Homo sapiens: one gene and its partner. The gene in region 1 interacts genetically with each later gene. Each region holds a gene or a part of one and is shown on either strand. Other genes may lie near its edges. The genes, in order: FIGNL1 and SWSAP1.

Region 1 (4,014 bases):
CAGTGTCCCTTCCTTCAGATTAGCAGAAGTTTCAAAATTACATTTAAAGTATTTTCTTTGTTTTCCTTCATACTGATTTTCATTTTTATTGTTTGTTATAGAACCTCTAAAATGCAGACCTCCAGCTCTAGATCTGTGCACCTGAGTGAATGGCAGAAGAATTACTTCGCAATTACATCTGGCATATGTACCGGACCGAAGGCAGATGCATACCGTGCACAGATATTACGCATTCAGTATGCATGGGCAAACTCTGAGATTTCCCAGGTCTGTGCTACCAAACTGTTCAAAAAATATGCAGAGAAATATTCTGCAATTATTGATTCTGACAATGTTGAATCTGGGTTGAATAATTATGCAGAAAACATTTTAACTTTGGCAGGATCTCAACAAACAGATAGTGACAAGTGGCAGTCTGGATTGTCAATAAATAATGTTTTCAAAATGAGTAGTGTACAGAAGATGATGCAAGCTGGCAAAAAATTCAAAGACTCTCTGTTGGAACCTGCTCTTGCATCAGTGGTAATCCATAAGGAGGCCACTGTCTTTGATCTTCCTAAATTTAGTGTTTGTGGTAGTTCTCAAGAGAGTGACTCATTACCTAACTCAGCTCATGATCGAGACCGGACCCAAGACTTCCCGGAGAGCAATCGTTTGAAACTCCTTCAGAATGCCCAGCCACCTATGGTGACTAACACTGCTAGGACTTGTCCTACATTCTCAGCACCTGTAGGTGAGTCAGCTACTGCAAAATTCCATGTCACACCATTGTTTGGAAATGTCAAAAAGGAAAATCACAGCTCTGCAAAAGAAAACATAGGACTTAATGTGTTCTTATCTAACCAGTCTTGTTTTCCTGCTGCCTGTGAAAATCCACAGAGGAAGTCTTTTTATGGTTCTGGCACCATTGATGCACTTTCCAATCCAATACTGAATAAGGCTTGTAGTAAAACAGAAGATAATGGCCCAAAGGAGGATAGCAGCCTGCCTACATTTAAAACTGCAAAAGAACAATTATGGGTAGATCAGCAAAAAAAGTACCACCAACCTCAGCGTGCATCAGGGTCTTCATATGGTGGTGTAAAAAAGTCTCTAGGAGCTAGTAGATCCCGAGGGATACTTGGAAAGTTTGTTCCTCCTATACCCAAGCAAGATGGGGGAGAGCAGAATGGAGGAATGCAATGTAAGCCTTATGGGGCAGGACCTACAGAACCAGCACATCCAGTTGATGAGCGTCTGAAGAACTTGGAGCCAAAGATGATTGAACTTATTATGAATGAGATTATGGATCATGGACCTCCAGTAAATTGGGAAGATATTGCAGGAGTAGAATTTGCTAAAGCCACCATAAAGGAAATAGTTGTGTGGCCCATGTTGAGGCCAGACATCTTTACTGGTTTAAGGGGACCCCCTAAAGGAATTTTGCTCTTTGGTCCTCCTGGGACTGGTAAAACTCTAATTGGCAAGTGCATTGCTAGTCAGTCTGGGGCAACATTCTTTAGCATCTCTGCTTCATCCTTAACTTCTAAATGGGTAGGTGAGGGGGAGAAAATGGTCCGTGCATTGTTTGCTGTTGCAAGGTGTCAGCAACCAGCTGTGATATTTATTGACGAAATTGATTCCTTGTTATCTCAACGGGGAGATGGTGAGCATGAATCTTCTAGAAGGATAAAAACAGAATTTTTAGTTCAATTAGATGGAGCAACAACATCTTCTGAAGATCGTATCCTAGTGGTGGGAGCAACAAATCGGCCACAAGAAATTGATGAGGCTGCCCGGAGAAGATTGGTGAAAAGGCTTTATATTCCCCTCCCAGAAGCTTCAGCCAGGAAACAGATAGTAATTAATCTAATGTCCAAAGAGCAGTGTTGCCTCAGTGAAGAAGAAATTGAACAGATTGTACAGCAGTCTGATGCGTTTTCAGGAGCAGACATGACACAGCTTTGCAGGGAGGCTTCTCTTGGTCCTATTCGCAGTTTACAAACTGCTGACATTGCTACCATAACACCGGATCAAGTTCGACCCATAGCTTACATTGATTTTGAAAATGCTTTTAGAACTGTGCGACCTAGTGTTTCTCCAAAAGATTTAGAGCTTTATGAAAACTGGAACAAAACTTTTGGTTGTGGAAAGTAAGTGGGATACTTGGAATCAAGGCATCTCTGTAGTACAGTCTTCTTTATTTTTTAGCATAGAAAGTTGGGGATGTGTTAATTGTATTTTTAAGAATATATTCTAAGTTCTGTACTTCAAATAATAGCACAGATTTTACATCTGATTGACATAGTGTATGTTAATGTAAGTTTTGCTTTCCAGTGATTACCTGATACGTAAGCCTATTTGAACAAAGTGAGAATGAACTTTTGTTTCTAAGAAGTCTTTATCTTGAAGCTATATAACATGAAAAGTGAGCTCAAATTTTTTTTAGTTGAAGATTACATATAAAGTTGTGTCTGATTAATATTCATCTTTTATTGAAGAAAGTGCCTTCTGATGGCCACATAATTCTTAATGTCAGCTAGTATAATGGTTTACATTTGGACAAAGTATTGCTTAGTGTTATTTAAGTAGATTTAAGATCTCAAAGCTAAAGTGCCAATTTTTACTTTCTTCAGCCAATTTGTTACCTCTTTTATGGTTTTTAATTTTTATCAGGACTAACATTTTCAGAAATAGCAAGGTGTGATCTAGTATTAGATTCACAGAACTGAAAGGTTAATTAAGAATGTTGGTTATTTTCACGGGAGCGTGTGATATTTAACATTAATATTTTATTTGACACTACAGCCTGTAATACTGCTCTCTTTCAAAAACAAGTTTTCAGATTTTTATAACAGACCCATTTTGTTTTATGAAACATGTTCATTACAGAAACATGAGAAAATAGAGATAAGTAAAAAGAATAAAAGTCACTATTATCCTACCACTTTGCGGGACACACTATTAATATTTAAGCATAGATTCTTCCAGATGTTTTGTTTTATACAGCAGTAGGATTGTGTAATGTATTCTCTCTTGTAGCCTATTCTTCAAAGCGTATCTTCACTTTCCATGTTAACATAAATGTCCTTTTATGATTGTCTAGGATTCCATGGATGGATGGAATATAATTGAGTCATCTGGTAGAGCGCATATAGGACAGGACGCTAGGTTGTTTATCTTTTGTTTATTGTAAAGGAACTATGTGGGATGCATTTGGTGATCTTTTTAAAAAATGTATAAATTTCTTGAGTAATTCCTGGATTAAAGAATATGCACTTTTTAAAGCTTTTGGCTTGCATTCTAAATTGTCCTCTTGAAAAAGTAGTTCCTGTGTAAAACTCCATCTGCACTGAATCAGAGCTATGGCAGCATTGGGCAGTAGGCAGTTTTGGTATTTGTTGGCATTCTTTTTGCATTTATTCAAAAAACTGAAGGTAGTGAACGTAGAGCAATGAACAACACAAATATCCTTGGTCTCGTGGAGGTTATATTTAAGTTCTAATGTTTTCTCTTGTGAACAGTGCAATTTGAAATGACAAATTGAAACACTTTTAGTTGTTGAATTTAGACAGTTTGTGTATATAGTTTAAATTTTTATTCTTGGTTTGCCTTCTGTTTTTATGTTAAAAGATTGTTGCAATTTTTAGTTTTTCCCTTTGTAATATGTGATTGTCTTTCATTAGAATTCATTTTTTGTTTTGTTTTGGTTATTTTGAAACAGTCTCGCTGTGTTGCCTAGGCTGGAGTGCAGTGGTGTGATCTCAGCTCACTGCAACCTCTGCCTCCTGGGTTCCAGTGATTCTTGTGCCTCAGTCTCCCTTGTAGCTGAGACCACAGGTTTGCACCACCACACCCAGCTAATTTTTGTATTTTTAATCGAGATGGGGTTTCACCATGTTGCCCAGGCTGCTCTCGAACTCCTGGCCTCAAACGATCCACCCACCTCAGCCTCCTGAAGTGTTGGGATTACAGGCATGAGCCACCACGCCTGGCCTTTTTTATTAGAATTTGGACGTTAAACTTCTTGTCTTC
Region 2 (7,123 bases), on another chromosome or scaffold:
TCTCGGCCCCTAAAAACACACACACGTACCAGGGCATGTGTGCAAGAATGTTCGCAGCAGTAAATAAGGCAATCTGATGAAGAAATCAGGGTATAGTCACCCATGGAATTATATGCAATATGGAAAAAGGAATGAACTAAAAAAATGTAGATGAATCTTAGTAACAACGTTGAGTGCAAAAAGAAGGAAGTCTCAAACTTTTTTTTTTTTTTTTTTTTGAGATGGAGTCTCGCTTTGTCACCCAGGCTGGAGTGTAGTGGCACAATCTCGGCTCACTGCAACCTCCGCTTCCTGGGTTCAAGCAATTCTCCTGCCTAAGCCTCCTGAGTAGCTGAGACTACAGGCACCTGCCACCACACCCAGCTAATTTTTTTTGTACTTTTAGTTGATACAGGGTTTCATCATGTTGGGCAGGCTGGTCTCCAACTCCTGACCTCTGGTGATCTGACCGCCTCAGCCTCCCAAAGTGCTGGGATTACAGGCGTGAGCCACCACGCCTGGCCTGAAGCTCTTTTTATAAAGTTTAAAGCAATGAAACTATAAACAACATATTGATTGGGTAAAATATATACAAGATAATGCTATACTTTTAAAAGAGAAAAAGCACTTTACATTGTTTAGGTCTTTGGATCTGCATATGTCCCTGAGGTAAGTATTCCAGCCATGGGAAACTGAAGCACAGAGAGGTAGTCACCCACCAAAGCTCAGGGCTGGCCTCCAGAGCTTGAACCCTTGCCTGAGCTGGGGTCACCAGCCTGGGTGGGCCACGGAGCGATCATCATTTCTCCATCTGATCGGAAAGTCACCCACCACTCTGTTCTGGGGCCCAGCCCGCCTGGCTCCAGGCAGGCTCGGAGGCCGTGCTCTCCTGGACCTGGTGCATCTGGCTGCAGCCAGCACTGGGCAGGAAAATACCGCTGGAGCAGTGCCAGGTGCAGGACGTCCCCACTACCTGCTTCCTCCTGGGTCTGGAGGGCCACCATGAGCCCACAATCCCGGCCAGGCCCAAGCCGGTGGCTGAAGTGGGCAGCTGTGTCTAGAAGTAAGGCAATGAGGTAGGCGGCTTCCTGGGGCTCTGGGTCTTCCGCTAGGTACTCTTCTAGGCCGTCGAGCAGCAGAAGGGAGGGGGCTGGCCCCGGGGCCTCATGGGCAGAGCACAGGAGCCGGAAAAGCTCTCGGGTTGAGGGTGGGTACTGGAAGCGGATCTTCTAGAAGGAGAAACAGAAGGAAAGGGCCGGATTCAGCACAGGAAGCCAGACTCCTTAAAAGTAACCCTGCCTCCTTGCATACTTTCCTTGGTTCCAGGATGAACCAGTTCAGAGCTGTTAAATATTCTTATATTCGCCCGTTTTTCCAGCACTCATCACTGCCGAGTATTAGTTGAGGGCAAGCCATTTTTGCTTGTTTGTTTTTGGCCAAATCTCTAGCGCAATTTTTCCACGGAAAACCCTCCCCCAGCATTCTCGGTCTGACCCCATCCTTGACACTAACAGGAACCAACTCAGGTCCAGAATGGACCCAAGCTTAGCCCCGCCCCTTGATGGGCCGGACTTCAATCTCTGGGCACCGCCTCTTGCTAACACCGCCCATCATTGGATGGGCTCTCACTTCAATCTTAACTAAGCTCCGCGTGGTGCCACTCCTCACTCCGCCTGCCTGACTCCGCCCCATCGTGGCTGCCCTGGCTCGCTCTTCCACCGTCCTCTCCATTGGCTTGTCTACCTGTTACTCAATATCCCGGATCTACTCCACCATTGGCTAGAACGCCTCTGCTCCCACCCCCACGGTTACCTGGAGTCGCATTGGGTCTAGAGTCGTTCCGGTCCCGCGGGGCATGCTTTGAAGAGGCCTTCGTGTCAGGAAGAGGACTGGGCCTTGGCCCTCCCCCGCCGCCTCTAGGGCCGCAGCAAATAGCAGCGCTGTTTTTCCAGATCCTGGTGTACCGAGCAGCAGCAAAGGCGGTCCGGCGGCAGGCATGTTCTCCTCCCCGGACCAGGCCGCACCGCCCCTGGTTAGCACCCGCCTCAGCGTCTCCGCCATTCGCCGCGTAGCTCTGACCAATCGGTGGCTCGTTCCCAGCCTTAGTCCCGCCCAAGCCGTGGCCGCATCGGTACAGTTCACTTAGTTTCTCTATTGGTCTAGGAATCTGTCCATCAAAACTCGATTCCTCAGGTGAATGGGCAAATGGTTAGAACCTATGCGGAGGAATGGGTGCATTCGAGGGAAATAAGACCCTTCCCTGAGGGAGGCTGCTGGGGGAACCAGCACGAATACTATTATTGTCAGCTAATCAGACAAATATAAGGGTTGAAAGTTGGAGGAGTAGACCAGAATGAGTGACATATTATTTAAAGGCTCCTAGCCTCAGTTTGCCCTGCTGTAAAATGGGGCTTATGATATCTCAGAGGAGTATTGTGATCGGCATGTATTTGTGTGTGGTTTTGCTGATGTCATCCAATGACAACTGAGAGTTTTGGAGAGGGGGATGAGCTGTGTGCTTGTCTTTCTGTGCACCTGAGTATGGGCCGGAGTGTGTGTCTGGGGACACAGGCTCGTGGACAAAACATCAACGGCCATCCCCGAAAGTCTGTGAGATGAAGCCTCTCAACTTACTTCCTCACTGGCTAAGGGGTTCTGTGGGGCCGCCTTTGTGGTACGGGGGGAAGGCAGGACCGCAGGACAAAGAAGGAAGCAGGAGAGATAAAGAGACAGGAGCTGGAAGACTGAAGGAGAGATACAGCAGGGACATTGTCTTGTTCACTTCTGTTCTCCAGTACCGAGAATAGCACCTAGCACATTTGTAGGTTCTCAAATACGTGCTCGTTAAGACAATGAAGGAAGGGAGGTGGGATTGATGAGAAACAGGGAGAAAGGGAGGAACAAAGTGAATGATCGTGATCCCTGGCTGGATCTTCTCACCCAGACTTCGCCCCAGAGCTGCCACTCACGCCTGTGTTGCCCTGGCAACCTTGTCTCCTGGTAACTCCAAAGTGGTGCCGTTGCCTGGAGACCCAGGGGCAGGGAGAAAGTGAGATTTCCTGGGCTTTCTCTCTCCCTCTGGGACCAGAAAACAGCTCCACGACATCCCCCAACACACCCACTCACACAGCTGGGCTCACTCACACCCCTCTACACACACACACACACACACACACACACCATGGCATCTCTGAATATATTCTACTTTCAGAATCCCCATCATCCACATGCTCCAACCTTGCCCTATCCTGACACAAAGCATCCCATACAAACTCTGTCCCACATTCATCCCCCACACCCTTTCTCTTGCAAAACACGCAACTATGACATTGCCACTACACACACAGACACACACAGTGAAGCACACCGATACACTGCGCTGTCAAACACGCCACCTCAGCCCCCATCCCCCAGCAGATATACAACGCATGATTCACCTCACATTTCAACACTCCAAATGCACATACAGGCCAGGTGTGGTGGCTTATGTCTGTAGTCCCAGTGCTTTGGGAGGCCAAGGCAAGAGGATTGCCTGAGGCCAAGAGTTCAAGACCAGCCTGGGCAATGTAGGGAGACCCCCATCTCTACAAAATACTTCAAAATTAGCCAGGTGTTGGCCGGGCGCGGTGGCTCACGCCTGTAATCCCAGCACTTTGGGAGGCCGAGGTGGGCAGATCACAAGGTCAGGAGATCAAGACCATCCTGGCTAACACGGTGAAACCCAGCCTCTACTAAAAATAGAAAAAAAAATTAGCCAGGCATGGTGGCAGGCGCCTGTAGTCTCAGCTGCTTGGGAGGCTGAGGCAGAAGAATGGCGTGAACCCGGGAGATGGAGCTTGCAGTGAGCCGAGATCGCGCCACTGCACTCCAGCCTGGGCGACAGAGCGAGACTCTGTCTCAAAAAAAAAAAAAAAAATTTAGCCAGGTGTGGTGGCGTGCACCTGTAGTCCCAGCTCCTTGGGAGTCTGAGGCAGGAGGATTGCTTGAGCCCAAGGAAGTCAAAGCTGCAGTGAGCAGTGATTGTGCCACTGCACTCCAGCCTGGGCAACATAGCGAGACCCTATCTCAACAAAAACAAACAAAAATGCACAAATACTCAGTAGTGACACCCACATCACAGAGTCCAGCACAGTTACATACATGGGAGCATGCTGAATACAGCCTCACCACAAGTCCTTTGCACTTGATGTTCTTGTGTGTGCAGCAGTCAGCTTCCAGATATCCTTCTGGCTTTTTTTTTTTTTTTTTTTTTTGAGATGGAGTTTTGCTCTTGTTGCCCAGGCTGGAGTGCAATGGTGCAATCTTGGCTCATCACAACCTCCGTCTCCCAGGTTCAAGTGATTTTCCTGCCTCAGCCTCCCAAGTAGCTGGGATTACAGGCATGTACCACCACGCCCGGCTGATTTTGTATTTTTGGTACAGACGGGGTTTCTCCGTGTTGGTCAGACTGGTCTCAAACTTCTGACCTCAGGTGATCTGCCCGCCTTGGCCTCCCAAAGTGCTGGGATTACAGGTGTGAGCCACCGAGTCCAGCCGACTTTTTTTTCCCTCCACTCTTTTTAGGTCTTTGGTCAAAATATCATCTACTCAGAGAGGCTTCCCCTGACTGCCTGCCCAAAATTGCACACATTTCACTCTTTAACTGATTATCTGTTTTTGTTGTTATTGTTGTTGTGTTGTTTTGTTTTTTCGAGACGGAGTCTCGCTCTGTCACCCAGGTTGGAGTGCAGTGGCGCGATCTCGGCTCACTGCAGCCTCTACCTCCCGGGTTCCGGCAATTCTCCTGCCTCAGCCTTCCGGGTAGCTTGGATTACAGGTACACACCACTATGCCCAGCTTATTTTTTTTTCTTTTGTATTTCTTTCAGTAGAGATGGGGTTTCACCATGTTGGCGAGGCTGGTCTCAAACTCCTGACCTCAGATGATCCGCCTGTCTTGGCCTCCCAGAGTGCCAGGATTATAGGCATGAGCCACTGTGTCTGGCCTGTCTTCACATCTTGACAGAAGAAGATTTACCATAGAGGAGAATCATGGAGGAATGTACCTGCCTGCAGGTAGGGTTGGACCTGGGGCTACAGGGTAGGAACTAGGTGGCTTGGGGTCACTCTGTGCCTATCCTTAGTTTACTGGCATCCTCAAGCAATAGTATCTACTATGTATCAGGGCCCATTCTAGTAACTGTAGACCCCACAGTGAACAGACAACAGATCAAATCTCTGTCCTGGTGGAGCGACATCCGAGTGAGGGAGACCTATAAAGACCCACTGAGCATCACGAGGAATTGAAACACTGTGAGCACATGACAAGCATAGGCAAAAAGACATTTGCACAAGGGACCGGGCACGGCGACTCACCCCTGTAATCCAAGCACTTTGGGAGGCTGAGGCGGGCGGATCACCTGATGTCGGGAGTTTGAGGCCAGCCTGACCAACATGGTGAAACCCCATCTCTACTAAAAATACACAAATTAGCTGGGCGGGGTGGGGCGCCTGTAATCACAGCTACTCAGGAGGCTGAGGCAGGAGAATCACTTGAACCCAGGAGGTGGAGGTTGCAGTGAGCTGAGATCGCACCATTGCATTCCAGCCTGGGTGACAGAGCAAGACTCCATCTCAAAAGAAAAAAAAAGAAAAGAAATTTGCACAAGGAAGGGAAGTTAGAAGGAAGGGCCAGTTGTTTTTTCAATTTTGAATAGGGTGGTTGGGTCAGGCTGGGAAGGCGACATTTGAGAAAAGGCCTGAGAGAGGTCAGGGTGTGAACTGTGCAAATATGCAGGGGAAGAACATTCTAGGTGGAGAATTCATTCAGTGCAAGGGCCCTGAGGCATTGGGAGAAAGTTGGCTTTTACTCGAGTCATGAGGAGACAGGAGAGAGCTCTGTGCCTGGGATAGTTGTGTTGTGACATTCTAAATCAGAGAGCTCTGTTTTAGTCAACTTGAGATTGAGATGCTGTGAGACCCACAGGGGCATGTTGAGAAGGCTTTTGATTTTTGTTGTCGTTGTTGTCGTTTTTTTATTTTTTGAGACCGAGTCTCGCACTGTCACCCAGGCTGGAGTGCAATGGTGCGATCTGGACTCACTGCAACCTCCGCCTCCCGGGTTCAAGTGATTTTCCTGCCTCAGCCTCCTGAGTAGCTGGGATTACAGGCGCATGCTGCCACTCCTGGCTAATTTTTGTAATTGTAGTAGAGATGGGGTTTCACTATGTTGGCCAATCTGGTCTTGAACTCCTGACCTCAGGTGATCTGCCACCTCAGCCTCTCTGAGTGCTGGGATTACAGGCGTGAGCCACTGCTCCAGGCCTAAACGCTTTACTTTTTAGAGAGCAGGGTCTTGCTACATTGCCTAGGCTGATCTCAAACTCCTGGGTTCAAGCAATCCTCCTACCTAGACCTCCCATAGTGTTGGGATTACAGGAATGAGCCACTTGTGCCCAGCTGAGAAGGCTTTCATTTTTTTTTTTTTTTTTGAGCTGGAGTTTCGCTTTTGTTGCCCAAGCTGGAGCGCAATGGCATGATCTCTGCTCACTGCAACCTCTGCCTCCTGGGTTCAAGCGATTCTCCTGCCTCAGCCTCCTGAGTAGCTGGGATTACAGGCGCATACCACCACGCTCAGCTAATTTTTTGTATTTTTAGTAGTAATGGTGTTTCACTATGTTAGCCAGGCTGGTCTCAAACCCCTGACCTCAAGTGATCCGCCTGGCTCGGCCTCCCAAAGTGCTGGGATTACAGGCGTGAGCCACCACGCCCAGCCAATCCCAAACAGGTACAAGCCAGCCTGTGTTCTCTAAGATCATCTATCCCAGTATGGGGGTTGGTGCAAGGCCAGGGCTGCTGTCACCACCCTCCTGAATGGGACCTGATTCTTCCCCCACTATTCCCATTGTTGGCCAGCGCTCTGCGTCAGCATCACAGACAGGGCCTGCTGGTTTGGGTGGTGGCGCTGTCCGTTGTGCTGAAGCTTTGCTTTCTTCCTGGCCCCAGTGGAGACAGCTGTGTGTCAGGAGAGACCACGGGTCTCAGGTGTATAAGCTCTGGAAACAGGAGCCTTGGTCAGTCAATCAGGGGGCCTCATGATGCTGTCTTTCCTCTGCCATCAGCTATCTGATGCTCTCATCTCATCCCCCCAGTGGCCCATGATCAGC

What was found.
Region 2: of FIGNL1 (region 1) and SWSAP1, a change in one rescues a mutant of the other (synthetic rescue), as found in Homo sapiens cells (one study listed by BioGRID).

The regions. Positions count from the first base shown.
Region 1 is NC_000007.14:50,443,385-50,447,398, reverse strand, and holds the end of FIGNL1 (fidgetin-like protein 1), read left to right. Parts: intron 1-101; 5' UTR 102-111; coding exon 112-2,136; 3' UTR 2,137-3,266; downstream 3,267-4,014. UniProt on the Homo sapiens protein: Involved in DNA double-strand break (DBS) repair via homologous recombination (HR). Recruited at DSB sites independently of BRCA2, RAD51 and RAD51 paralogs in a H2AX-dependent manner. May regulate osteoblast proliferation and differentiation.
Region 2 is NC_000019.10:11,369,598-11,376,720, reverse strand, and holds SWSAP1 (ATPase SWSAP1), read right to left. Parts: upstream 2,056-7,123; 5' UTR 2,041-2,055; coding exon 1,792-2,040; intron 1,209-1,791; coding exon 705-1,208; 3' UTR 552-704; downstream 1-551. UniProt on the Homo sapiens protein: ATPase which is preferentially stimulated by single-stranded DNA and is involved in homologous recombination repair (HRR). Has a DNA-binding activity which is independent of its ATPase activity.